Homo sapiens: one gene and its partners. The protein of the gene in region 4 purifies or fractionates together with the protein of the main gene of each other region. This does not show direct contact. Each region holds a gene or a part of one and is shown on either strand. Other genes may lie near its edges.

Evidence for each region.
Region 1: the proteins of SLC6A8 (region 4) and CHP1 purify together in Homo sapiens (affinity purification with mass spectrometry; 2 studies listed by BioGRID and IntAct, with this or other methods). This does not show direct contact.
Region 2: the proteins of SLC6A8 (region 4) and TRAM1 purify together in Homo sapiens (affinity purification with mass spectrometry; 2 studies listed by BioGRID and IntAct, with this or other methods). This does not show direct contact.
Region 3: the proteins of SLC6A8 (region 4) and OCIAD1 purify together in Homo sapiens (co-immunoprecipitation; 3 studies listed by BioGRID and IntAct, with this or other methods). This does not show direct contact.

Annotation. Positions count from the first base shown.
Region 1 is NC_000015.10:41,255,268-41,262,294, reverse strand, and holds part of CHP1 (calcineurin B homologous protein 1), read right to left. Parts: intron 5,596-7,027; exon of another isoform or gene 5,485-5,595; intron 5,386-5,484; coding exon 5,305-5,385; intron 1-5,304. UniProt on the Homo sapiens protein: Calcium-binding protein involved in different processes such as regulation of vesicular trafficking, plasma membrane Na(+)/H(+) exchanger and gene transcription. Involved in the constitutive exocytic membrane traffic.
Region 2 is NC_000008.11:70,605,410-70,612,724, reverse strand, and holds the start of TRAM1 (translocating chain-associated membrane protein 1), read left to right. Parts: upstream 1-4,308; 5' UTR 4,309-4,525; coding exon 4,526-4,648; intron 4,649-5,055; exon of another isoform or gene 5,056-5,848; intron 5,849-7,315. UniProt on the Homo sapiens protein: Involved in the translocation of nascent protein chains into or through the endoplasmic reticulum (ER) membrane by facilitating the proper chain positioning at the SEC61 channel.
Region 3 is NC_000004.12:48,848,063-48,855,089, reverse strand, and holds part of OCIAD1 (OCIA domain-containing protein 1), read right to left. Parts: intron 6,692-7,027; coding exon 6,644-6,691; intron 5,144-6,643; coding exon 5,008-5,143; intron 3,285-5,007; coding exon 3,115-3,284; coding exon of another isoform or gene 3,098-3,114; exon of another isoform or gene 2,865-3,097; intron 1-2,864. UniProt on the Homo sapiens protein: Maintains stem cell potency. Increases STAT3 phosphorylation and controls ERK phosphorylation. May act as a scaffold, increasing STAT3 recruitment onto endosomes. Involved in integrin-mediated cancer cell adhesion and colony formation in ovarian cancer.
Region 4 is NC_000023.11:153,690,918-153,697,107, forward strand, and holds the end of SLC6A8 (sodium- and chloride-dependent creatine transporter 1), read left to right. Parts: intron 1-386; coding exon 387-636; intron 637-1,057; coding exon 1,058-1,190; intron 1,191-2,123; coding exon 2,124-2,258; intron 2,259-2,345; coding exon 2,346-2,449; intron 2,450-2,544; coding exon 2,545-2,669; intron 2,670-2,987; coding exon 2,988-3,100; intron 3,101-3,212; coding exon 3,213-3,350; intron 3,351-3,426; coding exon 3,427-3,529; intron 3,530-3,615; coding exon 3,616-3,716; intron 3,717-3,801; coding exon 3,802-3,972; intron 3,973-4,156; coding exon 4,157-4,297; 3' UTR 4,298-5,671; downstream 5,672-6,190. UniProt on the Homo sapiens protein: Creatine:sodium symporter which mediates the uptake of creatine. Plays an important role in supplying creatine to the brain via the blood-brain barrier.

The DNA of each region.
Region 1 (7,027 bases), on a different chromosome or scaffold from region 4:
GCACATTATGGAAAGGCCGCTTTTAAAATAAAGTTTATTTAATTTTTAATTTTTCTTATTTATTTATTTATTTTGAGACAGAGTCTTGCTCTGCTTATAAATAAATAAAGTCTTGCTTTATTTATTTATTTTGAGACAGAGTCTTGCATCCAGGCTGGAATGCAGTGGCACTACCTCGGCTCACTGCAACCTCCGCCTCCCGGGTTCAAGCAATTCTCCTGCCTTAGCCTCCTGACTAGCTGGAACTACAGACGCCCGCCACCATGCCCGGCTAATTTTTTGTATTTTTTTTTTTTTTTTTTGAGATGGAGTTTTGCTCTTGTTGCCCAGGCTGGAATGCAATGGCGCGATCTCAGCTCACTGCAACCTCCGCCTCCCTGGTTCAAGCGATTCTCCTGCCCCAGCCTCTGGAGTAGCTGGGATTACAGGCATGCGCCACCACGCTCAGCTAATTTTATATTTTTAGTAGAGACGGGGTTTCTCCATGTTGGTCAGGCTAGTCTCGAACTCCCGACCTCAGGTGATCTGCCCGCCTCAGCCTCCCAAGTGGTGGGATTACAGGTGTGAGCTGCTGCACCCAGCCTAATTTTTTGTATTTTTAGTACAGACAGGGTTTCACCGTGTTAGCTAGGATCGTCTCAATCTCCTGACCTCATGATCTGCCCACCTCGGCCTCCCAAAGTGCTGGGATTACAGGCATGAGCCACCATGCCCAGCCAAGTTTATTTAATTATAAAAGCAAACATAAATTTGAAAATGTGGAAAAAAGAAAAGTAGATAGAAAAATACTGATCCGAGTTCTACCAATTACAACCACAGTTAATATAAATATATTTTCTGGCTGGGCACGGTGGTCCATGCCCATCATCCTAATACTTTGGGAGGCTGAGGCAGGCAGATCACTTGAGGCCAGGAGTTGAGACCAGCCTGACCAACATGGTAAAACCCTGTCTCTACTAAAAATACAAAAAAATTAGCTGGACGTGGTAGTGGGCACCTGTAATCCCAGCTACTCGGGAGGGTGAGGCAGGAGAATCGCTTGAAACTGGGAGGCAGAGGCTGCAGTGAGCCTAGATTGCACCACTGCACTCCAGCCTGGGTGACACAGCAAGACTATGTCAAAAAAAAAGAAAAGGAAAGGAAAGGGAAAGGAAAGGAAAAGGAAGGAAAAGGAAAGGAAAAGGAAGGAAGGGAGGGAGGAAAGGAAGGAAGGAAGGAATCAATCAATTAATCAATCAATCAATCAGCCAGGCATGGTGGCTCACGCTTATACTGCCAGTTATTTGGGAGGCTGAGGTGGGAGAATCACTTGAACACACAGGAGGCAGAAGTTGCGTGAGCCGAGACTGCGCCACTGCACTCCAGCCCAGGTGACGGTGCAAGACTCCCTCATATATATATGAATGCATTTTCTTCTAGTAACTTTTCTATGCTTTTCAGATAACTGTATTAGTATCCTGCCTTTTTTTTTAACTTTTAAGCATTTCTCCAATCAATATAAATACTTTGAAACATTTAAAACATATGCATAATTCTGTGGACACATCATGATTTTATTATTCCCTCATAATTGGATAATTTTTCTCTAAATAATCTTTTAGGCCAGGCACAGTGGCTCACGTCTATAATCCCAGCACTTCAAGAGGCCAAGGTGGGTGGATCACCTGAGGTCAGGAGTTCAAGACCAGCCTGGCCAACATGGTGAAACCCCGTCTCTACTAAAAATACAAAAATTAGCTGGGCCTGGTGGTGCATGCCTGTAATCCCAGCTACTTGAGAGCCTGAGGCAGGAGAATCACTTGAACCCCAAAGATGGAGGGTGCAATGAGTCGAGACTGCACCACTGCACTCCAGCCTGGGTGACAGAGGGAGACTCCATCTCAAAAAAAAAAAAAAAAAAGTTTTGAAAGACCTCTTGTGTATAAAGCCTTTTTGGTACTTAAGCTTGGAGAAAATCTTTTCATTGTGCCACAGGCTAATCAATAACCCTGTAAGAAATAATTCTCAAAACTTGAATGAAGAATGTTCTTTAATATTAAAAAAGAATGCCCCATGTAACATAATATAATTTATTTATCTAAGGCAGATGGCCTGGTTCCTGTGGTTACCTAAAAAAAAAAAAAACCCCAGCCTTTCTGTGCCCCACCGAATAGCTGAGGTATGTAGGTTCTCTTCTGTGCTCTATAGACATGCAGTTCATAGCCCTTCTAAAGGCAGAGTTCAAAGGCTAGCCTGTGAGCCATCTGTACTCAAAAGAATGACCTTGGCTGGGTGCAGTGGCTCACGCCCATAATCCCAGCACTCTGGGAGGCCGGGGCGGGCGGATCACCTGAGGTCAAGAGTTCAAAACCAGCCTGGCCAACGTGGTGAAACCTTAGCCAGGCGTGGTGGCGTGAGCCTGTAGTCCCAGCTACTTGGGGAGGCTGAGGCAGGAGAATCACTCGAACCCAGGAGGCAGAGGTTGCGGTGAGCCAAGATCACACCACTGCATGCCAGCCTGGGAGACAGAGGGAGACTCCGTCTCAAAAAAACAAAAAACAAAACAAAAGAATGACCTTTTAGTTCTTCGATGTATCTATACTGCTAATGGACCAGTATCTGGTCAAAAATGTCAGATCTGAGGAATCAAGTAATGTGGAGTAAAGTTTAAAACATATGCTAGAAAAAACACATTAATGATTATTGCTAGCATAAAGTTTCTGGGTAAAAGGGAATTGAATAACCATGGTCCACTTTCAAATCTCATTCTTTAAAAAAAAAAAAAAAAAAGCCCCAATGTGCATATGCCTAGGGAAGAAAGAAAAACCCAGAAGCCAAATATATCTATCTGATTAGAGCAAGAAGCAGAGTCGCAGCTTGCTAAGAGCTAAGCAGTGCAGCCCAGTAGAGCCCTCCACTTCCTCATATGCACTCTGTCCCATTTCCTTAGCAGTAGATTGGTGGACAGAATGACAGGTGATATTGTAGTCACAGCAAATGTAGTTTAGTCTTACAAAACAGCTTCCCACAAGCTGCTTCTTCAAGTAATCAATGGTGACTAAGGAATTCTGAAAAAAAGTTGGCAAAGTGACTCTCCTGGGTTTACTTTTCATTGCAAAAGGTTTGGATACAAAGCATAGCTGTGAAAGTTATCTCTGGATAGGGTTCAATGCTTTGCAGGGGTAAAAGAGGAATTAGAAAAAAGGAAGAATTCAGCATAAAAACCACACCTGAAACAAACAGGGCAGTTCAAGGAGAGAGAAAGGAAAAAATGAAAGAGGGCATAAGATTCCTCATAGTCAACGTGATTTGATTCCCATCTTTACATGAACTAACTGCCCGACCTAATTCCCCTTCTGACTTTCACTCACATTTCCTGAATGCCCAACCCTCTCAACTAGCAAATTCCTTTGCTCTCAATTTAGAGTTCTAAAATTTCCTCTCCAGGCATTTTATCTGACAGTGTCCTCATTGACAGTCTCATTATTAAAAACTGGCACCCATATAATATTTTGAAGTCCTGTGGGTCATAGACTATCCATATAAACCAGGAATAGATTGTTTAGGAAATTACTTAAAACAAGCTTATATGTAAGTTTTATTGTTGAAAAGGTACCTAATCAAATCAGTAAATATTTACTCACTACTGTGAAGGCAGTGTATTAGGTAGTAAAGCATATCAAAAGACTAGTTTCATGTTAGAAAAACCCACATTAAGAACAATCTACTTGACAAAGCATATGTGGTGAGAACTATGTTTATTCAATATCACGAAAGTAAAATAAAGGCTGGGGAAATGTTCCAGATTAAAGGAGGCTAAAGAGACATGACAACTGACCCAGACTAGATCCTGTACTGGAGGCGGGGAAGTGCTATAAAACAGATTATTGGATGACAAAATTGGAATATGAATATAAATTAGAATAAACTGGATAATATGTTAATAAAACAGAGTAATAGATTAGATAAGAGGATTGTATCAATGTTAAGTTTACTGAAGTAGATAACTATACTATGGATATGTAAAAGAATGTCCCTATTCTTAGCAAACACACACTGGTGCATTCAGAGGTAAAGGGTCATTACTATGCAACTTACCCTGAAATAGTTCAGAAATACAATTATGTGAACACACATACACAAAAAAATTACATAAGTATGTGTATATACATACATGTATGTATGTGTATGTATGTACGTACATGTAGGCATGTATGTATGTATATACACACACACGTAGAGTATGTGTAGGTAGAGAGAGGGGAAAGAGAGAGGGAAAAAGTGTCTGCAAGAGAGGGTATGTAGAGTAAGCACGGGTGTACAAGCTGCGCTGTTCAATACTGCAGTCACTTGTCACATCTGGTTATGTGCACTGAAAACATGGTCAGTCTGACTTGATATGTGTTTAAGTGTAAATTACACACTGGATTTCAAGGACTTATTATGAAAAAATGTAGGCTGGGCATGGTGGCTCACGCCAGTAATCCCAGTACTTTGGGAGGCTGAGGCAGGCGGATCACCTGAGGTCAGGAGCTCAAGACCAGCCTGGCCAACATGGTGAAACCCTGTCTCTACTAAAAATACAAAAATTAGCCAGGTATGGTGGCATGTGGCTGTAATCCCAACTATCTCGGAGGCTGAGGCAGGAGAATCGCTTGAACCCGGGAGGCAGAGGTTGCAGTGAGCCGAGATGGCACCACTGTACTCCAGCCTGAGCGACCGAGCAAGACTCTGTCTTAAAACAAACAAACAAACGAAAAAAGGATCTCAGTTATTTTTAATATTGATTATATATGGAAATAATATTTTAAATATATTAAATAAAATATATATTACCAAAGTTAACTTATTTTTACTTTTTAAATGTGGTTACTAGAAAATGTAAAATTACGTATGTGGCTTGCATTATATTTTTATTGGCTACTACTAAGAAGAGAGCACACAAATGAGGCAAAATGTTAACAATATAACAGTAGATGCATCAGGGCAATAAATATACAAGTATTCTCCGAATTACTTTTAACTTTTGCAACTTTTTTGTAAATTTGAAATTATTTCCAAATAAACATTTTTTAAAAGTCTAGTTTTACATCAATGATAAACATAAGAATTTTGAAGATAGGCTCATATATCTATTTGAAGTTTAAAACACACAGGAGGGTAGAACAGAAGAGATATTCTAGAAATGACAAAATTAGAATTGCTCAATATAATCAGGGGGTATCACAGTCTGAGATGGCACAACCAATATCATTATTCCAGATTAGCAAATAATTTAGGTTGTGATAGCCTCAGGAAGGAAGTCCAACAACTGTACTGACTCACCCCTCTGGAAAGAAGGCATTGATGATCCGGTCCCCCAGTGGGTTGATGGCAAGTTCTGGAATCCTCTGGAAATCTTCCCGGCTGCCAAGAGAATCACCTTGAGTTAGATAGAGATCATTGCCCTTAGCATGAACTCCTTAAGTCAGGAGGTAACAGGGTGTAACCTAGCAAGAATATTACCTCCTGGAATTTACTTCTGTGGCAAATTATACCAAATAACTGCAAAGAATAGCACTTTAATAGCTGCCAAGTGTTTCTTGCACCAACTCAGAAGTGGAAGGAGCCAGATTTGATTACGCCACATTCCAGTGAATTTAGCACACAGGTTACGTCAATAAGCCAACTGATGGACAAATACTAAGCTGTCCCTTAGTAAATGATTTCTTGAACATTAGCATTGCGTACCTAGTTATTAAGTTTGGAAAGTGAACAGCAAATGGAAAGTATCAAATACTGCAGAACTTGAATATGGGGACAAACACTTAGAGGGGTCTCCATATCCTTGTTAAGATTTTTAGGCACTTACAAAATGCAAGGAATTCTTAGGTGCTATTTACATGCAAGGAAATAATGTGACAACCAATTGATTTCCTTGTTCTGACTCTGGCTTTTTCTCCATTTCCATGTTCTGTGGACTAGGGCTACAGAAGTATTTAACCCTCAAACATGACAAGAGCAGTCATCCTCACATGACTTAGGCGAGGTTATACCAAAGCGAATATTGTCAGTTACCATTCATCACATATATATCATGTGCTGCTCTGTTTACATACATTATTCTCATTTCTTCACGCCAATGTTTTATGTATACCCTTTTAGAGCTGAGGAAATTGAGAGTCAGGAAGATAAAGTAACTTGCCCAAAGCCACACTACTCCTAAGTAGCAGAACTGTGATTTAAATCTAAGTCTGTAAGTCAAAGTATGTGTTCTTTTTCTAAAAACCATATTTCTTTCCTATATTGAACTTTTTTTTGAGACAGAGTCTTGCTCAGTCACCCAGGCTGGAATGCAATGGCATGGTCTTGGCTCACTGCCACCTCCACTTCCCAGGTTCAAGCGATTCTCCTGCCTCAGCCTCCCAAGTAGCTGGGATTACAGGCACTCTCCACCACGCCTGGCTAGTTTTTTGTACATTTAGTAGAGACGGAGTTTCACCATGTTGGCCAGGCTGGTCTTGAACTCCTGACCTCAGGTGATCTGCCGGCCTCGGCCTCCCAAAGTGCTGGGTGGGATTACAGGAGTGAGCCACGGTGCCCAGCCCTAATATTGAACCTTTTGAATGAAAGTTACTCTCCCCCAAATTCTTTATTTTTATTTTTTTGAGATGGAGTTTCGCTCCCAGGCTGGAGTGTAGTGGCTTGATCTCTGGGTTCACTGCAACCTCCTCCTCCCGGGTTCAAGCGATTCTACTGCTTCAGTCTCCCAAGTAGCTAGCATTACAAGCGGGTGCTACCATGCCCGGCCAATTTTTGTATTTTTAGTAGAGGTGGGGTTTTACCACATTGGCCAGGCTGGTCTTGAACTCCTGACCTCAGGTGATCCACCCACCTCAGCCTCCCAAAGTCCTGGGATTACAGGCGTGAGCCACCGCACCCAGTCCCCCAATTTTTCAATAAGTATTTTTTAAAAACTTTCTTTTGTTGGTTCCTGGGCCAAGAATACAAAGCTGTCTACAACTTATCTGTGCTGCAGTCTTCAAAAATATCAATGTCATGGAGGACA
Region 2 (7,315 bases), on a different chromosome or scaffold from region 4:
GCCTGGTGGCACGTGCCTGTAATCCCAGCTACTCAGGAGGTTGAGGCAGGAGAATCACTTGAACCTGGGAGGCAGAGGTTGCAGTGAGCTGAGATCGTGCCACTGCACTCCAGCCTGGGCAACAGAGCGAGATTCCATCTCAAAAACAAACAAACAAACAACAACAACAAAAACCCAATGGTCATCTCAAGTCCTATGGCTGGCCAGAGTATGATATGTTTAAGCAGCTGAAAGAAGACCAATGTGGTCTTCTCACAAAGGAGTGAAAAATCACCAGATTCTAAGGTTTGAAAGGACCAATTTCAGTTTAAAAACTGACATTAGTAGAGCAATTCATTTCCAAATGACCTAGAACACTTCTACTGCACCTTGCACTGTCTCTTTGTAAATATCCATCACATTGGTCATTGTTTACTGTCTGTCTTCTATTCCAGGTATGCGTTTCAAGAACAAAGACTAAATCTGTCTTGTTAATAATTATATCCTACAACTCAGGACTTGCTTGGTGCATTGCAAGTCTTCTTTAAATATATTTAAAATGAGTAACTTTGTAGAGCCATATATCATTTTTATGTTTGTTTCTTGGTTAAACTATCTTAAGGTTTTATTCTCATTTATGTGAGGTATTTTTTCTTTTCATTCCCTCAATAAATAATGACCACTAAATATTTGACAGTATAGCACCAGGTAGTAGGAGCTGGAAAAATGAAACAACTCCCAGTTCCTGAGGAGTACCAGTCTAGTGGGAAGACAGACTTGCAAACAATAGAAGATAGTATGATTATTGCTAAAATGAAATTATGTACAAAATACAAGTGAGTCCTCATAGACCCAAGTGTAAGAGCTAAAACCATAAAACTCTTAGAAGAAAACACAGGAGTAAATCTTTGGAATCTTGGGTTAGGCACTGATTTCTTATATAGGACAACAATAGCAAGTGATTAAAGAGAAAACAGGTAAGTTGGACTTTGCTGAATTAAAAACTTTTGTGCTTCAAAGAAAACCATCAAGAAAGTAAAAAGACAGACTGAAAGAAAATATTTTCAAATCATATATCTGCTAAGATCTAGAATCTATCTTTTATTTTTTAAAATAAATTACAGAACAACATGGACATATAGAATAGATATTTTTAAACCCTTACAACTCAATAAACTTTAAAAAATTAATCCAACTTAGAAATGATAAAGGATTTGAATAGACATTTCTACAAAAAAAGATATACAGATGGCTTCTGAGCACCTGATAAGGCTAGTAGTCAATATCATTAGTGCTCAGGGAAATGCAAAGCAAAATCACAATGAGATATTACTTCACACCCACTAGGACAGATAAGATTAAAAGACAGAAAATAAAAGTATTGGCAAGGATGGGAAGAAATTGGAACCTCTACACATTGCTAATAGGATGGGAAATAGTGCATTCACTTTGGAAATTAGTGTGAGAGTTCCTCAAAACGTCAAACATAAAGTTGCCTTATGATCAGCAATTCCACTGCTAGGTATATACCCAAAGGAATTGAGTTCAAACAAAAACTTGTACACAAATGTTCATCAACTGATGAATAAGATGTGCTATAGCCATACAATGGAATATTATTTGGCCATAAAAAGGAGTGAAGTACTGATACATGTTACAACATCGATGAACCTTGGAAACATTATCTTCAGTGAAAGAAGTCAGTCACAAAAGATCATGATTCTATTTACATGTAATGTCCAAGCTGGCCATGGTGGTTCACACCTGTAATCCCAGCACTTTGGGAGGTGGGAGAATTTCTTGAGGCCAGGAGTCCAAGGTTGCAGTGAGCTATGATCATGCCACTGTACACCAGCCTAGGCAACAGAGCAAGACCCCATCTCAAAAAAAGAAAGAAAAGAAACAAAGAAAGAACAAAAAGAAATGTCCACAATAAGCAAATATAGAGAGGTAGAAAATAGGTCAGTTGTTGCCAAGGGCTGCCAAGACTATGAGGGGAAATGGAGAGTTACTGGTAATGTGTATAAGGTTTCTTTTAGAGATTACAAGAATGTTCTAAAGTTATATTATGGTGATTGTTGCACAACTTTGCAAACATACTAAAAACCACAGAATTGAATATCTCAAATAGCTGAACTATATGACATAAATTATACTGCAATAAAACTATTTCAAAAATGCAATTGAATCATAAAAGATAAATTGCTTAGGTCACAGAATTCAGTGAAGCTTTCGAAGAGGTCATGTGTAAATGAGACATGAAGGAACAGCAGGAGCCTGCTGTGTCTATGAAAGGACAGGAGAAAACATTCCAGACAGAGACAGCAGTACACGCAAAGGCAGGGGAGAGCATGGGAAGAGAGCATGTCATGGCATGTACAGTCGTCCCTCAGTCTTCACAGGGGACTGGTTCCAGGGCCCCCGCGGATACCGAAATCCACCCATGCTCAGGTGCCTTATATAAGATGATGCAATATTCTGGTAAAGAATATCCTAAATCCTCCCACAGACCTCCAATCATTTCTAGATTACTTATAATAACACAACATAACTGCTAAATAAATAGTTGGCTGTACTATATTATTTAGGGAATAATCATGGGGGGGTAGTCTGTAGATGTTCAGTACAAATGCAGTTTTTTTCTTGAATATCTTTTACTCCAGGTTGGTTGAATCCACAGTGTATGCGGCACCCACAGATATGGAGAGGCAACTGTATAGTGTGTGTAGTCAATAATGCTGGTACAGAGATTATGGCCTGTAGATGCAGGGCTCCAGTCTGTTGGGGTAGGCAAGGACCAAATCAGAAAGGGCTATTTCATCATGCTAGCTTTCCATGAAGGGAAAGGGAACCCGCTGAAAAACTTTCTGCCAGTAGAAGCATCATTCTAGTATAAACGTTGAAAGGTGATCTGAAGGGAAATGAAACTAGTGATTGCCCAGAAGGAGGAAAAGAATAATCCCTGACTAAATTTATAAAGCCCTTACTCCCCGCTAAGCAGTTTCCTTCAATCATCTCATTTAATCACTAAAATGAGCAATAGTTATCCCCACTTTATAGATGATATCCACAGGGCTTGCTCCCTCACCTCCTGCAGGTCTTCAGGCAAGTATAAGTGCCTCGCACTTTCCTATTCCCCTTGCTTTATTTTTCTCCTGGTTGCTCAACTCAATTTAACATCTGTTTCGCTTTTGAAATCTTGTTTAAAGATTCTCTCCCACACTAGAATGATAAGTCCCTAGGAATAATTTAATTTGTATTTCAGTTCTGTATCCCCAGTGCCCAGGACACAGTCAACCCTCAGTAAGTACATAAATGAATACATTTTTAAAAATGAGGAAATCGGGTCCCATAGAGATTAAGTAACTTGTCCTTGATCGTACAAGTAATAAGTGGCAGAATTCTGATTTAACAACCCACATTCTTAAACCACTAAGTGGTTACACCAGAGTTGTAATATTGTAGGCAAGAGGCAAGTACCCTCGGACTGCGGTAGTGGGGAAGCGGGGTGATAGGTCTGCCTCGAATTGGTGATGACTGGATGTGGAAGGGCGCTGAAAGGGCTCAATCTAGCATGACTTTGGTTTCTACATTTGGCTTATGGGTAAACAGGAGAGCAATTCTTCAGGAAAAAGAATACAAAGGACTCCAGGTTTGGGCAAAACGATAAGAGGAGGACGTGTCTTAATCCACGATCCTTTTTAACTCTTTTACTATTTCCCTTAGATTACTAAAACATGTTGTTAATTTGAATATATGTGAAGCCAGTAAACCCAAACTGATCCCTTCGTCTTCAGTCTGAGGCCAGTGGGGGATAGGGGTGGGGATGGGGACGGGGATGGGGGTGGGGACGGAGAGGCAGACCAGAATAGGGTCAGCTCTTTTTTTTTTTTTAAGTTAGTCCAAACTTACCAAGAGTAGAAATAAGTCCCCAGCAGTGCTTAACTCTGAGGTAATTTTTAAGGCAGATGCTAAAACTGGAGAATACACCGTACCCTTGTGGAGTCAGGTAGTATTCGTAGTTTTAGATTATCCTGACGGTGTTAGTCACTTGTAGAAGTGACAATGTGCAACAGGCCACTGACACCCAATCCCTGGATGGCCAGGAGGGCAGGAGGGCACCCGGCCGCGGCCTCAGGCTGCTGAGCAGGCGCAGGAAGCTCGCGCCTCAAACGACTCCCAAACCCGGGCCCGGCGCGAAGCAGGGAAGCGCCGCTCACATTCCTGCACGCTCGCCCGGCCGCGGGCCAGCGGCCTCCGGTCCCCAGGTGGCGCTGTGGGCTCGCGGAGGCGGCCGCGGCACCAGGGAGCGTCGTCTCCCTGGTGCGCATGCTCGCCCCCGCTGCGGGCTAGCTGTTGTGTTTTTTTTTTTCCCCCGGGCGGCCCGGCGGCTGCGTACTGGCTGTGGGATGGGAAGTGAAGCCCCAGCGAGCGGCTGCAGCGGGGCCGTGAGGAGCAGCCAGCGGGAGGCGGCGGCGAGTCGGTGAGCAGCTGGGAAGAGCAGAACCGGGGCGGAGCACCTGCAGGCGCGGGCGGCGGCCCCACCATGGCGATTCGCAAGAAAAGCACCAAGAGCCCCCCAGTGCTGAGCCACGAATTCGTCCTGCAGAATCACGCGGACATCGTCTCCTGTGTGGCGATGGTCTTCCTGCTGGGGCTCATGTTTGAGGTGAGCCCGCCCCGAGTCCCAACCGCCTGCCCCGCCACCTCCAGCCCGGGCCCGGGCTCCAGATGCCAGCCCCGGCTTCTCCGCCCAGGACGCGGGGGGCTCGGGCCCGGGGTGGGTGCAGACCCCCAGTCCCTGAGGTGCAGGCCTTCCCTGCCCTGCCCCACGTCGGCGGCAGCTCCCCGGCGGCCGGCCCGGAGATGCAAAGTCCCGGTGGGCCTCATCGCGGCCCGCAGGGGGTGGGGACCGCCGCGTCGCCCCCTTCCTGACCCGCCGCCGCCCCCTCCCGCAGGCTGCGCGGCGCAGTTCCTGGTTCCCGCGAAGGGTTACGTGGCAGCCGGCGAGGGGCCTGCGGGCGGGGGCGGCCCCTGCGCTGCCGAGCTGGCTCGGGGCGGGTGGGCGGACTTGGGGGGACTGCCAGCCTCGGCCGCGGTGAGCGTCAGCCCCGCGAGGGCCGGGGAAGGCCGAGGCCCGGCCCCCGGGTCTGAGGAGTGCCGGCCTGGAGACCACAGGCCCCGAGTGACAGGGGAGCCCCCGGTAGCTCCGAGATTGGGGTGAGCGAGAAACCGGAGTCAGGCATCTGCTTTCGACTTGAAGGGCGGTGGCCGCCGGGCACCGGCGCAGTGGAGGCGCGCCAGATTGTTTTCATTTTTGTCTTTTAAACTGATATTATTACCAGTTAACGAACTTTTTGCCCTGACGCTTTAAAGAAACAAGGTCTGATGGATAAATCGAGGTTCTGAACAGCGGTGCCAAGGAATCGAGTAATTTTGTTTCTTGAAGTAGGAGAGGATGGGAATGTCAGGAGTGTGTAAATTCTCTTCCCACGTATCTAGTATTTTGATGACTTATTTAACAGCTGTTGAATGTGGATGATAAACTTTGCAAGGTGAACGAGTAACATCCTACGTTTTTCCCCTCGCTCCCCAATACACACGCTCATTCCTTTGCTTTTTTCCCTTTTTAATTTTTCTCTGGAGCCTTTATGTCTCAGTAAATATACAAATTATTTTGCTCCTGCCTTGTTTTGTCTCCTCTCTCCTGCATGTAACAAGTGAGAGTAGAGATTTTGGAGTATTTTTACGAGTCTGTATTTCCAGAGTCTAGGATAGTGCCTGGGACATAGGAGTGCTTAAAAAAAGATGAGCGACGTTAAGAATCCTTGAGAAAACCTAATGGAATGATATTACCAGTGACCAAAAGGTGAATACATTTTCTTTTTAATGGAGCATATTTGTTTTTTTTTTTAATTTTAAAATTAAATAATATTTTAACCTTATTTTCGCCTCTCATCAAATGGGCTTTTCTGGATCTAGATACAGATATTATTTACTCCTGATTGTGTCATGCATGTTTGAAACCACTGCTAAGGAGGTAGCAGGTATAGTTAAAGGGTAGGTAGAAGGAAACTAACATTCTCAAGCTTTAAGTCTGGGCTGTGCCACCTACCTACTGGGTGACCCAAGTCTGAGCCTCAATTTTTCTGCTCTTTATCAGGAAATAATATCACCTGTACTGTTCTCCTCACAGCCATTTTTTGCAAGTATCAGATGATATGGTGTGAAGGTAAATACAGTGCTAGGCCTGGTGCTCTGGCTTATGCCTGTAAACATCCCAACACTTTGGGAGGCCAAGGCAGGAGAATCACTGGAGCCCAGGAGTTCGAGACCAGCCTAGGCAACATAGGGAGACCCTGTCTCTACAAATGATTTTTTAAAAATTAGCCAGGAGTGATAGATAGCACGCACCTGTGGTCTCAGCTGGGCGGCTGAGGTGGGATAATTACTTGAGCCCAGGAGGTGGAGGCTGCGGTGAGCCAAGGTTTCACCACTGCACTCCAGCCTGAAGGACAGAGCAAGAAGACCCTGTCTCAAAAAAAACCCAATGTTAAACATTTGTATTCACTTTCTGAATTTGATACTTGCATGTACTTTCTGCTTTGACCTTAAAGTAGTACTTTAATATATGTAGTATATTCAATTTTCTGTAACTTGTCATAAACCATCTCCACATGGTAAGAATTCCTGACTTTAAAAACATATTTTAGGGGTACTGTGACCTGCAAGGTATATTTGCAGTGCTTTGAATGAAATGAAATATAAATCAGAAATTCTGACACATAGTATAACTTTGATTTTATATAAACTATTTTACATTCTCTTACTATATTTCTAGGGAAGTCCACCACCTATACCTTGCCTCACATGTTAGTGATTTTTTTAAACAGTGGATTTTCACCTTTATATAAATTTATAAAATTTGAAAATCTAAATAGACAAAAATACTAAATAGAGGTTTTTAAGTCAATTCAAAAGTGAGTGTTAAAGTGATACACAAAAGTGAAGTTTGTGCGAGTTCTTCCTTTTTCTTACCATATATTAAGGTGTTAGGATTTCAAAGCATGTTATCTATATATAGGACTTTGTAGACTAGGTTAGTTTTGCTATTCGACTTTTAAAACAATTGCTGCTGAATCTCAAAGTTAACATAATTATAGAATTACAGTACTTGTGCTAGAATAATAGAGAAATTGATTTTTTTTTGCAGAACTGTTAAGCCTGTTGTGCAGATACATTGAGGAAATGTCAGAGGATTTATGGTGACATTGACAAAGAAATTCAGAAAGAAAGAAATACTGTATTACTAGCCAAAATGAAGAAGCAATGGAGA
Region 3 (7,027 bases), on a different chromosome or scaffold from region 4:
ATTATAAAATTCTGGAACAAATAATGAAAATATACATCAGACAGAAGAAGACTGGGGAGAATTTCCCACACTATGGAGAGAACATGATTTACTATTTTGGGAAGGTTATAAAGAACTGGAAGGAATAAAAAAATGTAAAGTGGCACTGATTTAAATCTAACTGTAATAAACTCTAAGTCTCCTAACAGCTCTGAAGGAGTGCTTGCTATTTTAAAAGATTAATAACTCTCTGAATTCCTGGTAAAAGAAAGCAGAACTAAAGTAGGACTTAAACCAAAGAATAAGATGCCCTGGTAGGGGAGGATAGCATCTGGGGCAAAGCAAAAGCAGGCCACTGCTGGCCCATGTGGAGAGCAGTAAAAAAGTAGCCACTTTGATTTAGAGAAGGGGGTCAGAAGGCAGAGCAGTGGATGGATGGATGGCTGCTGTGGAAGGCATAAAATAATATTAAGACATGGCCTTGCTAAGTAGTCTGTGGGTAGATACCAAAGGGCTTTTTGTTTGTTGGCTTTTGTATGGAAAAAAACTATATAACAGAATTTCCTAATGCAAATGGTGGGGAAGATGCAAGTCATCACAAGGAAAGAGTTAGTGCATGTCTAGAATACAGTAGTGCCCCCTTATCTGTGGTTTCGCTTTCCAGGGTTTCAGTTACCTGCAGTCAACCATGGTCTGAAAATATTACATGGAACATTCCAGAAATAAACAGTTCATAAATTTTAAATTACACCCTGTTCTGAGTAGTGTGATAAAATCTTGTGAGGTTCTGCTCTGGTCCATCCAGGACTTGAATCATCCCTTTGTCCAGCATATCCACACTGTCTACACTACATGCCTGTTAGTAACTTAGTAGCCATCTAGATCAAAAAAACATAGAACATAAAGGATTTGGTAATATCTGAGGTTTCAGGCATCCACAGGGGTCTTCGAACTTATCCCCCATGGATAAGGGGGGACTACTGTACAAGAAGAATGGATTTGAACTTCAGACTGGTTAAATGAGACATAGTGAGGAACAAGGACAGCTGCCTTTGGAGATAAGATAGTGACTTTAGCCATTCTCTCCTAATCTGCCCATTCCCTTCCTTCCTTTTCTGACTAATTTGATGCCTTTGCTTCCAACCATTAAAGAAAAAAATAAAAAAATCAGAGTTGAGGATTAAGAAGCTCTCAATAACTTTCATCCAAATTCTTTAATCATCTGAACTTCCATTCTTTCCTGTCTCTTCCTTTATACAAGGCTAATACTCACCCCTTTGCCCCGACTTTTGCTCTTAAGTAGTGCTGTCCAACATAACTTTCTGCAATGATGAAAATGTTCTATATTGGCACTAACACGGTAGCCACTAGCACATGTGACTATTGAGCAAGTGAAATGCTACCAAAGCAATTGAGAAATTGAATTTTAAATTTCATTTAACTTTAATTAATTTAAATAGCCACATATGGCTAGCGGCTACTCTGACCTACCTAGAACCCCCTTCTGCATTCTCTAGAACCTTCTCTGACCTATAATCAACTTCTCCCTTTCCACTGTATACCCTCCCCTCCCTTTAACTTCTTTCCCTCTAATCTTTTAAAATTTAAAGAGTATACTCTACAAAGGTCCATAATCCCTTATCCAAACCTTGGGGTCAGGTATGTTTCACTATTCAAAGTTTCTGAGGTTTTAGAAAAATACTACAGTAAATACCCCTTATATTACTTAATATCCATCCATTCAGAGGTTTAGGACAGGAATGAGTAAGCAAACACATTAATATTTCTATAATGAAATAAAGGAAAAATCTTATCTGGCAAAGTAAATAAAGTCTACGTTTATATAACTTATGTGAATTTAGGTCAGGGTATTCTGCTAAATGAATTCAGGTCAGATTTTATTACCAGTTTAATTATTAAAAAACAAAAACAGGCCGGGGGCAGTGGCTCACACCTGTAATCCCAGCACTTTGGGAGGCCGAGGCGGGCGGATCACGAGGTCAGGAGATCAAGACCATCCTGGCCAACACAGTGAAACCCCATCTCTACTAAAAATACAAAAAATTAGCCGAGCGTGGTGGCGGGCACCTGCAGTCCCAGCTACTCAGGAGACTGAGGCAGAATGGCGTGAAGCTGGGGGGGCGGAGGTTGCAGTGAGCCGAGATCGCACCACTACAGTCCAGACTGGGCGACAGAGCAAGACTCCATCTCAAAAAAAAAAAAAAAAACAAAAAACAAAAAAAAACTTGGCTTAAACCTTTTTGAATTTCAGGATTTTAGATAAAGAATTACAGACCTGTATTTCCCGTTTCTAATTCCTCATCTTTTACTGCCGACTAGACTGAAGGAAAGAAACTAATGTTTTTTGAGTCTATTATTTGCCAGACATTGCCTCTGATTATTTCCTCTAATTCCAACAGTTCATTAAGAGAGGTAGTATCATCTCCATTCAACTGATCAAGAAACTGAAAGGATCATAAAGTAGTTATAATAATATTACTACATTATTATAATGTAGTAGTAGTATTACAAGGTCACATAGCTAGCAAATGTCAATCATGATTCAAATCCAAGCCTTAATACAAAATTGATGTTGTTGCACTTACATGTGTGATCTTCAAAGCTAGTATTTACAAACTTCACAAAGCATTTTCACATGGATTTTCTCACTTGACAACAGTTCTTTCTTGTATTACAGACAGGGAAGCTGAAAGCCTTTAAAACCCAGCCTATCAAATGTAACCTTTTTATACCTTTCCTGGAGCTCTACTTCCTGAGACACGATTTATCATTTCTTCTTCACTATTCCACTAAGCTTGCCTTAGTATTTTCAATTACTGGGACATACTAGTAATTCATCCTTGTATTTCTATATCTTCTAACAGACTGAAAGTTTTTCAGGGACAAGAACCAAGTGTTATTCATCTTCTTCCACGTCTAGCAGAGTCCTTGACACCTACTGGTCCTCAAGAAAAGTTGAATGAATGAAGAAACAAATGAACAAACATGCTGAGTTTAGGTTGATGATTGATGGTAGAACACACAGGTGATATCCAGCAGAAAAGGTCATCAAATAAAGTTTATACATACGTTGGACCATAAAATGTTGAAATTCATTTCAAGAGAAGTTTCTACCTTGGACAATATGATCAGTAATACCAGTGGGAGCAGATTCATTCATAGAAGAACTGAATGGAATTGGCTCATAATGAGGAAGCATTTCTATGTTGTCTGCTGCTGGGGATGTCACAAAAGATGATTGACCACTCACACTTGAGTCATATTTTGACTTTTGATAATAGTGCCTGTAAATGAAAATCATATTGTAGTAAGAAATATGAGTCATTGCCTATATCTTAAAGAAGTGTTAAAATAACTTCTTTCATATAGCTTATTTCCAAAATTATATATACATATAATTTTTTTTATTTTTTTGAGACAGGGTCTTGCTCTGTCACCCAGGCTATAGTGCAGTGACGCAGTCTTGGCTTATTGCAATCTCCACCTCCTAGGCTCAAGCAATCCTCCTACCCCTCAGCTTCCCAAGTAGCTGGGACTACAGGCATGCGCCACCACTTGGTTTTTTGTAGAGATGAGGTCTCACTATATTGCCCTGGCTGGTCTCAAACTACTGGGCTCAAGCAACCCTCCTGCCTCAGCTTCCCAAAGTGCTGGGATTACTGGCATGAGCCACCGCGTCTGGCCTCAAAATAATTTTTAACGCAGTTATTTATAATCAGTAAAATGAGGTCTGTTTCTTTCTGCCAACAAAACACTTTTAAAAAGTCCTGACCCACTTATACATCTTAAAAGCAGTCACTGTCAGTATAGAAAAATAGGAAATGTATACCCAGCCTTTCAAGATAATTTTAGTATGTTTGAAAGTTCTTGGAAAGAAAAAGCACTTTAAATCAGGTCTAATTTCAATAACCATGCCCGTTTCCCATGTCAATTGAGAAGGTAATATCACAGCTAAGAATCTATATAAACACTAATTTGCTAAAGCAGATACAAATTCTCTCTCATGGGGATTATATTGCTTGCCTATCTGTTTAAGAAGCATTAAAATGAAAAGCTGAAATCTGTTAAGAGATGGGATTGATAAGATTTGGGAATTCAAAAGAAAAGTCCAAACTATAGTAACCAAAGGTGTTTGCCAAATTGAATCGAGATAAAATCCTTTATTCTAGAACATGTACTCCCAATAGGACACAACTCTATATTTACAACAATGAAGGCCAGATGCAGTGGCTCACGCCTGTAATCCCAGCACTTTGGGAGGCCAAGTGGGGCAGATCACTTGAGCTCAGGAGTTTGAGACCAGCCTGGTAAACACAGTAAAACCCTGTCTCTTCAAAAAATACAAAAAATTAGCTAGGCGTGGTGGTGTATGCCTGTGGTCTCAGCTACTCCAGAGGCTGAGGGAGGAGGATCACTTGAGCCCAGGAGGCAGAGGTTGCAGTGAGCCGAGATCACGCCACTGTACTCCTAGCCTGGGAGCCAGAGTGAAACTCTGTCTCAAAACAAAACAAAACAAAAATGAAGAACCAGGCACAGTGGTTCACACCTGTAATCTCAACAATTTGGGAAGCCAAAGCAGGAGGACTGATTGAGCCCACTAGTTCAACACCAGCCTGGGCAACATAGTGAGACCCCCATCTCCATAAAAAAAATTTTTTTTTAATTAGCTGGGTGCAGTGGCTGACACCTGTATTCCTAGCTACTCAGAGAGCTTGAGGCAGTGGGGCCTTGTGAACCCAGGAGTTTGAGGCTGCAGTGAGCTAGGATCATGCCATTGTACTCCAGCCTGCGCAACAGAGGGAGATCCCATCATTCATTCATTCATTCATAAATAAATAAATGGTGGCAAGTCTTGCTCCAATTTTTGAAGCAAATTACTTTTAGCCTACAGCAAATGGCAAGTATCCAGTGGTCCTTCAGGCAATGTTTTTGAGCCATGAGTTATAGCAACATCTAGTTGTTTCTTAAAAATTAAAAATCTTAAGTAAAGATCAGAATCTGGCCTACCCAGGTGGTGAAGATCGTCGTGCTTGTCCTGATCGTAAAGCTTCTCCAAGGGGGGAATTTTCAAGTTTCTTGAATTTCTCTTGGCAAGTTTTCACATAAGAAAGTTTTCCAGCAAAGTATCCCATGATACAAGCAACTTATTTGTAAAATCAAACAAAAAGTGTAACTGAATGTGCCTTTCAGACAAAAGTATTTTCTAAAAGAAAAATTTGTTTTAAAGTGTGATTCTAAATAAGTCTTTGGTTTAGAAAGACTGAGATTTCCTGAAATAATGGTAGAAGAAATCAAAATTAAATCAGATCAGAGTTCATATACAGAGTCTATGGATATAATTCAGTTTCCAAAAAAAGTGTGCCAAAATAAAGCTGCTATAAATAAATCAATTATAGTATACTAATTACTTTATAATATATACAGGAAAGATTTAGTAAAGGTATAATGGGAAGAGGAATGGATAAGGAATAAAAGCATCAAAACATTTATTTATTTCTAGTTCTAAATAAACAGAACTAGATCACAAGGATTTAGGCCATTATTTTCCTATAAAACAGAATATCATATGCACAGCCATTTTCACAAGATTGTTTTAAAGTAAAATTAGGTGCAACAAATCCCTTAAAGTAATAAATTACGAACCATAACCTAAACGTGGCACTTACTGCATCACATGAGTTTCAAATAGAAAAGAAAGGCTAACCTGAAAGACTCATGAAAAGCCTCAGGTACTTCTTTTGAAGAGCAATGTAGCTTCTTTTTCTTTTATTTATTTATTTATTTACTTATTTTTTATTATACTTTAAGTTCTAGGGTACATGTGCATAATGTGCAGGTTTGTTACATATGTATACATGTGCCACGTTGGTGTGCTGCACCCATTAACTCGTCGTTTACATTAGGTATATCTCCTAATTCTATCCCTCCCCACTCCCGTCACCCCACAACAGGCCCCGGTGTGTGATGTTCCCCTTCCTGTGTCCACGTGTTCTCATTGTTCGATTCCCACCTATGAGTGAGAACATGCGGTGTTTGGTTTTCTGTCCTTGTGATAGTTTGCTGATAATAATGGTTCCCAGCTTCATCCATGTCCCTACAGAGGACATGAACTCATCCTTTTTTATGGCTGCATAGTATTCCATGGTGTATATGTGCCACATTTTCTTAATCCAGTCTATCATTGATGGGCAATGTAGCTTCTTTTTCTATTAACTATATTGCAATGTGTAAATAAGTTATGCTTATTTACATTTTAAAATACAAATTAGAGAGATTTCTTTTAAAAATTAAGCTTAATTTTAAATATACTTTATTTTGATTAATCAGAATATCTTCATAACTTTGTTTCCCCATAGACAGACCAAAAATTTATTTTCAAATACTTTATCCTTACAAAATAATTTTAAATTAATTGTTCTATTACATTATAAAGACACAAAAAAATGCCTATTTCAACTGATGATTTTTTATGCTAACAATAAAATATCCAAGTAATCCACTTAATGAAATGCTTTAACAAACTGATTTATCAGAGCATGTAACCACATAACTAATATGAGTAAGACATGATAAAACATTTGATAAAAATAATTTTATTTAAGTTTTAAAAAGCTATGAAAACTACAATGTTGTTCATACTTACGTATAAGTTTAGGGATGGAACCATATTTGGGATGACTTGAAAGTATTCCTAAAGAAAAGAGTTAAGTATTTCTGAGTAACACTGTTACAGAAAGAAAAATCAGTAAAGGCTATCTTTAAATATAATCTTACAACATTAGCTCCTTCCATGATCCTACAGAACCCTAGACTGTTTAATAGGGAAAACCAAATGAATTCAGTATCAAGAGAAATATGACGAAAATCCAAAAGACTCTACAAAGTATTAGAACAGGTAAATTTAGAAAGATCACTTGATGTAAGGTCAATAGACCAAATATATATGTGTGTGTGTATGAAAAACTGTTTATACCAACAACAAACAAAAAAACAAACATTTTTTAGAAGACAGAATTAATTATAGCAC
Region 4 (6,190 bases):
ACACCAGCTGCTGAGGACTGGAGGCTACTGGGTGGCCAGGCAGAGGCTTGGACCTCCTGGAACCGCCATGGTGGCAGTGGGACCCACAGAAGGGGCCAGGTGTATGAGGCTGGAGACTCCACAGCACTTGGTCAGATGGGGACAGGAGGAGAGGGGCTCGCTCTGCCTTGGGTCTAGGGGGCGGCTGGAGGAGAGGAGACAGGCTGGGGAGTCAGCGCAGTGTTGGGGCTCACACAAGGGGGAGCCCAGGGGAGTCAGGAGCACCACAAACAAGGCTCCAGGAGGACAGATGGTGGGAGCACGGCCAGCCTGGGTGGGGACATAAAGGGGTGGCAGGGGGAGGTGGCCAGGGAAGAATCTACATGGCAAGGACTTCCCGGCCCCAGGCCTGGGCTACGCCTCCATGGTGATCGTCTTCTACTGCAACACCTACTACATCATGGTGCTGGCCTGGGGCTTCTATTACCTGGTCAAGTCCTTTACCACCACGCTGCCCTGGGCCACATGTGGCCACACCTGGAACACTCCCGACTGCGTGGAGATCTTCCGCCATGAAGACTGTGCCAATGCCAGCCTGGCCAACCTCACCTGTGACCAGCTTGCTGACCGCCGGTCCCCTGTCATCGAGTTCTGGGAGTGAGTCCGGCACCTCTGGGCCAAGCCCATCCCATCCCCCAGGTCTCCCTCATGTTGCCCGGCTCCAGGGGAGTGGCCCTGAGGGGGCACCAGGGTGTTGCCTGGCAGTCCATCCTGGACCCTGCCTGCCCTTGCCTGTCCTCGGAGAGTCCTGGGGCCAGCCTCGCTCCTGGGTTCGGCAGCCGATCACTGTCCTGGTCACTCCCCCCTGATGGGGGAGCTGGGGCTGCATGTGAGGTGGGATGGGAGTGGCCTCCCAATGGCCAGGGGATCGTGGGCTCCAGGCCCAGCCCAATTGGACAAGAGGGACCCGCTGAACCCTGGGCTGTGGGAGAGAAGGGAGCCACAACTCCTGGGGGTGGACCCTGTGGCTCCATCCTCTGCTGGCACAGGCCTCATGGGACCTCCCTCCCTCCCCTAGGAACAAAGTCTTGAGGCTGTCTGGGGGACTGGAGGTGCCAGGGGCCCTCAACTGGGAGGTGACCCTTTGTCTGCTGGCCTGCTGGGTGCTGGTCTACTTCTGTGTCTGGAAGGGGGTCAAATCCACGGGAAAGGTACCACTAGAGGCATGCAGCGGGGAGGGTGGCTCAGCCCTGGGAGCCGGATGTCTGTGCCAGGCACACCTGTGGCAACGGGAGGTGACCAGACAGAGTCTAGCCCTAAGGAAGGGGGAGGTACTGAAAGCCAAGCAATGCTCCCCACCCTGCAAATCCAGGGCCCAGCAGCCTTTGCTCCTGGGGATAGAGGCCCTGGCAGGCACTGTCCCTTCCCTGTGCCCATCACCCCCACTGGTGCCCTCCTGCCAGTCTCTGACTCTTGTGACAGTCTGGTGGACCTGGTCTGGCCATCTGTTACCTATCTTGCCTTGGGGACCCAGAGCAGAGTCTGGCCACATCCCTTGGGGGCTCCTGGTCAGGCTGGGGAGTCACCTGAACAAAGAAGACAGTGTCTAGAGCTGTGGGACATGGCCAGCTCCCTGGGGGACAAGGTCCCCAGAGCAGCATGTGGGAAGAGGGGGCAGACAGTGTGGCAGCTGCATCTCGCCTGCCTCTGCCTGGCCCAGTTCCACTCTCCACCTGCTCAACCCCCACCTCTCTCCAGAAGAGGAGGGGGACCCGACCCGGATCCAATATCCCGCTCCCTGCCTGGGCCTCCCACACCTGCACTGCCCACACACTCATACAGCTCTCACTCCCCACGTGCTCCACGCCTCCTGTCCCCACTGAGGAGAGCTCCCAGAGGCTCGCCTGCTCCCCACCGACACGCGTCCCTGCAGACAAACGAGGCGCCCAGGGAGCTTCCCCACTGCACTTGGCCAGGGCTGCCGGGGCGCAGCCTTGCCCCTAGCTTCCTCTGGCGGGAGCCATGGCTCGGAGGACAATGGGGACCTCTGAACATACCTGCCCGCAAGGGGGACCGGAGGCGCTGGGAGTGGGGGTGTGAGGGAGGTGGTGCCACAGCCTCCGCTGAGCAGCCTGGCCCCCCAGATCGTGTACTTCACTGCTACATTCCCCTACGTGGTCCTGGTCGTGCTGCTGGTGCGTGGAGTGCTGCTGCCTGGCGCCCTGGATGGCATCATTTACTATCTCAAGCCTGACTGGTCAAAGCTGGGGTCCCCTCAGGTGAGGTGGAGGTGGAGAGGCTGCAGCAGGGCGCTGCGGGGGAGCCCTGCAGGCCCCTCATGCCTGCGCTCTCCGGCCCTTCTCTAGGTGTGGATAGATGCGGGGACCCAGATTTTCTTTTCTTACGCCATTGGCCTGGGGGCCCTCACAGCCCTGGGCAGCTACAACCGCTTCAACAACAACTGCTACAAGTAAGCACCGCCGCCCTGCCACCCGTGCCCTGTCCTGCCCTGCCCCGCCCTGCCCAGCAGCCTAACCCATCCACTCTGGCCCCTCCACCCCTCAGGGACGCCATCATCCTGGCTCTCATCAACAGTGGGACCAGCTTCTTTGCTGGCTTCGTGGTCTTCTCCATCCTGGGCTTCATGGCTGCAGAGCAGGGCGTGCACATCTCCAAGGTGGCAGAGTCAGGTAGGGCCCTACCCCCAGCCCCGCCTCCAGAGCAGCGAGTGCTACCCAGATGCATGATGTACAGGAACATGCAATAGAAATGCTGAAAAGTGACGAGGATTCAAACGGAACTTGTCAGATTGTGGGCCTGTGGGGGCAGGTCCTGGGATTTGTCAATGTTGACAGAGAAAGGACCTCCCAGCCCCTGCCGCACGACCCAGGGTTGACAGCGCCTCTGAGGCAGGCGTGGGCATGGGCGCGAGTGTTGCAGGCAGGGCTCAGGGTGCGCACAGGGCAGGACATCGGCTACAAGGTCTAGAGCCTGCACCTTTCCCACAGGGCCGGGCCTGGCCTTCATCGCCTACCCGCGGGCTGTCACGCTGATGCCAGTGGCCCCACTCTGGGCTGCCCTGTTCTTCTTCATGCTGTTGCTGCTTGGTCTCGACAGCCAGGTTTGCATGGGGCTCTGGGACAGGGAGCCAGGAGGGGGGCGGAGGGAGGGCTGCAGGCAAGGAAAGGGGTGGAGGGCGGTGCGGGGCTCGGCCTGAGCTGCCCTGGCCACAGTTTGTAGGTGTGGAGGGCTTCATCACCGGCCTCCTCGACCTCCTCCCGGCCTCCTACTACTTCCGTTTCCAAAGGGAGATCTCTGTGGCCCTCTGTTGTGCCCTCTGCTTTGTCATCGATCTCTCCATGGTGACTGATGTGAGTGGGGTGGGGGGTCTGCCTGTGACCTCTGGTGGCCGTCTGCCATCCTCCCTGACTGGGCTCTGTCCCCCAGGGCGGGATGTACGTCTTCCAGCTGTTTGACTACTACTCGGCCAGCGGCACCACCCTGCTCTGGCAGGCCTTTTGGGAGTGCGTGGTGGTGGCCTGGGTGTACGGTAGGTCATGGCTGAGGGCTGGGCTGGGGGATGGTGGCGGGGAAGGCAGGTCTCCAGCTTGGCCCTCCCGCCTCACCTCGCCGCAGGAGCTGACCGCTTCATGGACGACATTGCCTGTATGATCGGGTACCGACCTTGCCCCTGGATGAAATGGTGCTGGTCCTTCTTCACCCCGCTGGTCTGCATGGTAAGGGCTGGGGGAGGTGGGGCAGGGCGGGGGGCGAGGCAGGGCGGGGTAGGGGCCCCATTAACCGCAGCATTCTGGTCCGTAGGGCATCTTCATCTTCAACGTTGTGTACTACGAGCCGCTGGTCTACAACAACACCTACGTGTACCCGTGGTGGGGTGAGGCCATGGGCTGGGCCTTCGCCCTGTCCTCCATGCTGTGCGTGCCGCTGCACCTCCTGGGCTGCCTCCTCAGGGCCAAGGGCACCATGGCTGAGGTAAGGCTCCCGCCCGGCCCGCCCTCCCCTCCCCTGCTGTGAACATTCAACCCAGCCTGCTTCCTAGCCAGGGAGTGGCCCCGACTAGGGTGGCAGGCAGTGGGAACCGGAGAGAGGCAGAGGAAGTCACCGTGGGGACGAGCAGGTGACCCTGGGGGCTTCAGCATGTCCTCCTCTCCTGCAGCGCTGGCAGCACCTGACCCAGCCCATCTGGGGCCTCCACCACTTGGAGTACCGAGCTCAGGACGCAGATGTCAGGGGCCTGACCACCCTGACCCCAGTGTCCGAGAGCAGCAAGGTCGTCGTGGTGGAGAGTGTCATGTGACAACTCAGCTCACATCACCAGCTCACCTCTGGTAGCCATAGCAGCCCCTGCTTCAGCCCCACCGCACCCCTCCAGGGGGCCTGCCTTTCCCTGACACTTTTGGGGTCTGCCTGGGGGAGGAGGGGAGAAAGCACCATGAGTGCTCACTAAAACAACTTTTTCCATTTTTAATAAAACGCCAAAAATATCACAACCCACCAAAAATAGATGCCTCTCCCCCTCCAGCCCTAGCCGAGCTGGTCCTAGGCCCCGCCTAGTGCCCCACCCCCACCCACAGTGCTGCACTCCTCCTGCCCCTGCCACGCCCACCCCCTGCCCACCTCTCCAGGCTCTGCTCTGCAGCACACCCGTGGGTGACCCCTCACCCCAGAAGCAGCAGTGGCAGCTTGGGAAATGTGAGGAAGGGAAGGAGGGAGAGACGGGAGGGAGGAGAGAGAGGAGAAGGGAGGCAGGGGAGGGGCAGCAGAACCAAGGCAAATATTTCAGCTGGGCTATACCCCTCTCCCCATCCCTGTTATAGAAGCTTAGAGAGCCAGCCAGCAATGGAACCTTCTGGTTCCTGCGCCAATCGCCACCAGTATCAATTGTGTGAGCTTGGGTGCGAGTGCACGCGTGCGTGAGTACGGAGAGTATATATAGATCTCTATCTCTTAGCAAAGGTGAATGCCAGATGTAAATGGCGCCTCTGGGCAAAGGAGGCTTGTATTTTGCACATTTTATAAAAACTTGAGAGAATGAGATTTCTGCTTGTATATTTCTAAAAAGAGGAAGGAGCCCAAACCATCCTCTCCTTACCACTCCCATCCCTGTGAGCCCTACCTTACCCCTCTGCCCCTAGCCAAGGAGTGTGAATTTATAGATCTAACTTTCATAGGCAAAACAAAAGCTTCGAGCTGTTGCGTGTGTGAGTCTGTTGTGTGGATGTGCGTGTGTGGTCCCCAGCCCCAGACTGGATTGGAAAAGTGCATGGTGGGGGCCTCGGGGCTGTCCCCACGCTGTCCCTTTGCCACAAGTCTGTGGGGCAAGAGGCTGCAATATTCCGTCCTGGGTGTCTGGGCTGCTAACCTGGCCTGCTCAGGCTTCCCACCCTGTGCGGGGCACACCCCCAGGAAGGGACCCTGGACACGGCTCCCACGTCCAGGCTTAAGGTGGATGCACTTCCCGCACCTCCAGTCTTCTGTGTAGCAGCTTTAACCCACGTTTGTCTGTCACGTCCAGTCCCGAGACGGCTGAGTGACCCCAAGAAAGGCTTCCCCGACACCCAGACAGAGGCTGCAGGGCTGGGGCTGGGTGAGGGTGGCGGGCCTGCGGGGACATTCTACTGTGCTAAAAAGCCACTGCAGACATAGCAATAAAAACATGTCATTTTCCAAAGCAGGCTCCTGCTTCCGCCTCTGCTGCTCTAAGGAAGGGGTCGGGGTACAGGAGGCAGGGGGAACCTCCTCCAGCTGGAGCTGCTGCCGTGAGCAAGGCTCTGCTCTGGAGGCCTCTGCGGCCGGCACCCTTCTGGGGACTGGGAAGGGGGCAGGGAAGGCAGCAGCCCAGGGGAAGGCCTTGTCCCCCTGGAGCCGAGGCAGTTGGGGAGAGCAGGACGAGAGTGAGCTGGAGAGCAGCCACACCCGCGGGGAAGGGTGGGCGTAAAGCCATGGGTGCTGAAATTTTCAAAATGTTACCCCAAGAATTTGTCACTGAACAGGTGCCTTGTGTCACTTGGGCCAGGCTGGTAGCAGCAGAGGGGATAACTCTGCATCAGGGATCAATTTTGAAGGTGGAGCCAATAGGGGTTGTGCATGACCAGGATGCAGGGCTCAAAGAGGAGTTAAGGACAACAGATTTGGCCTGAGCAAGAGGAAAGATGGAGCTGCCAGGTCCTGCAATGGGGAGGCAAGGAGA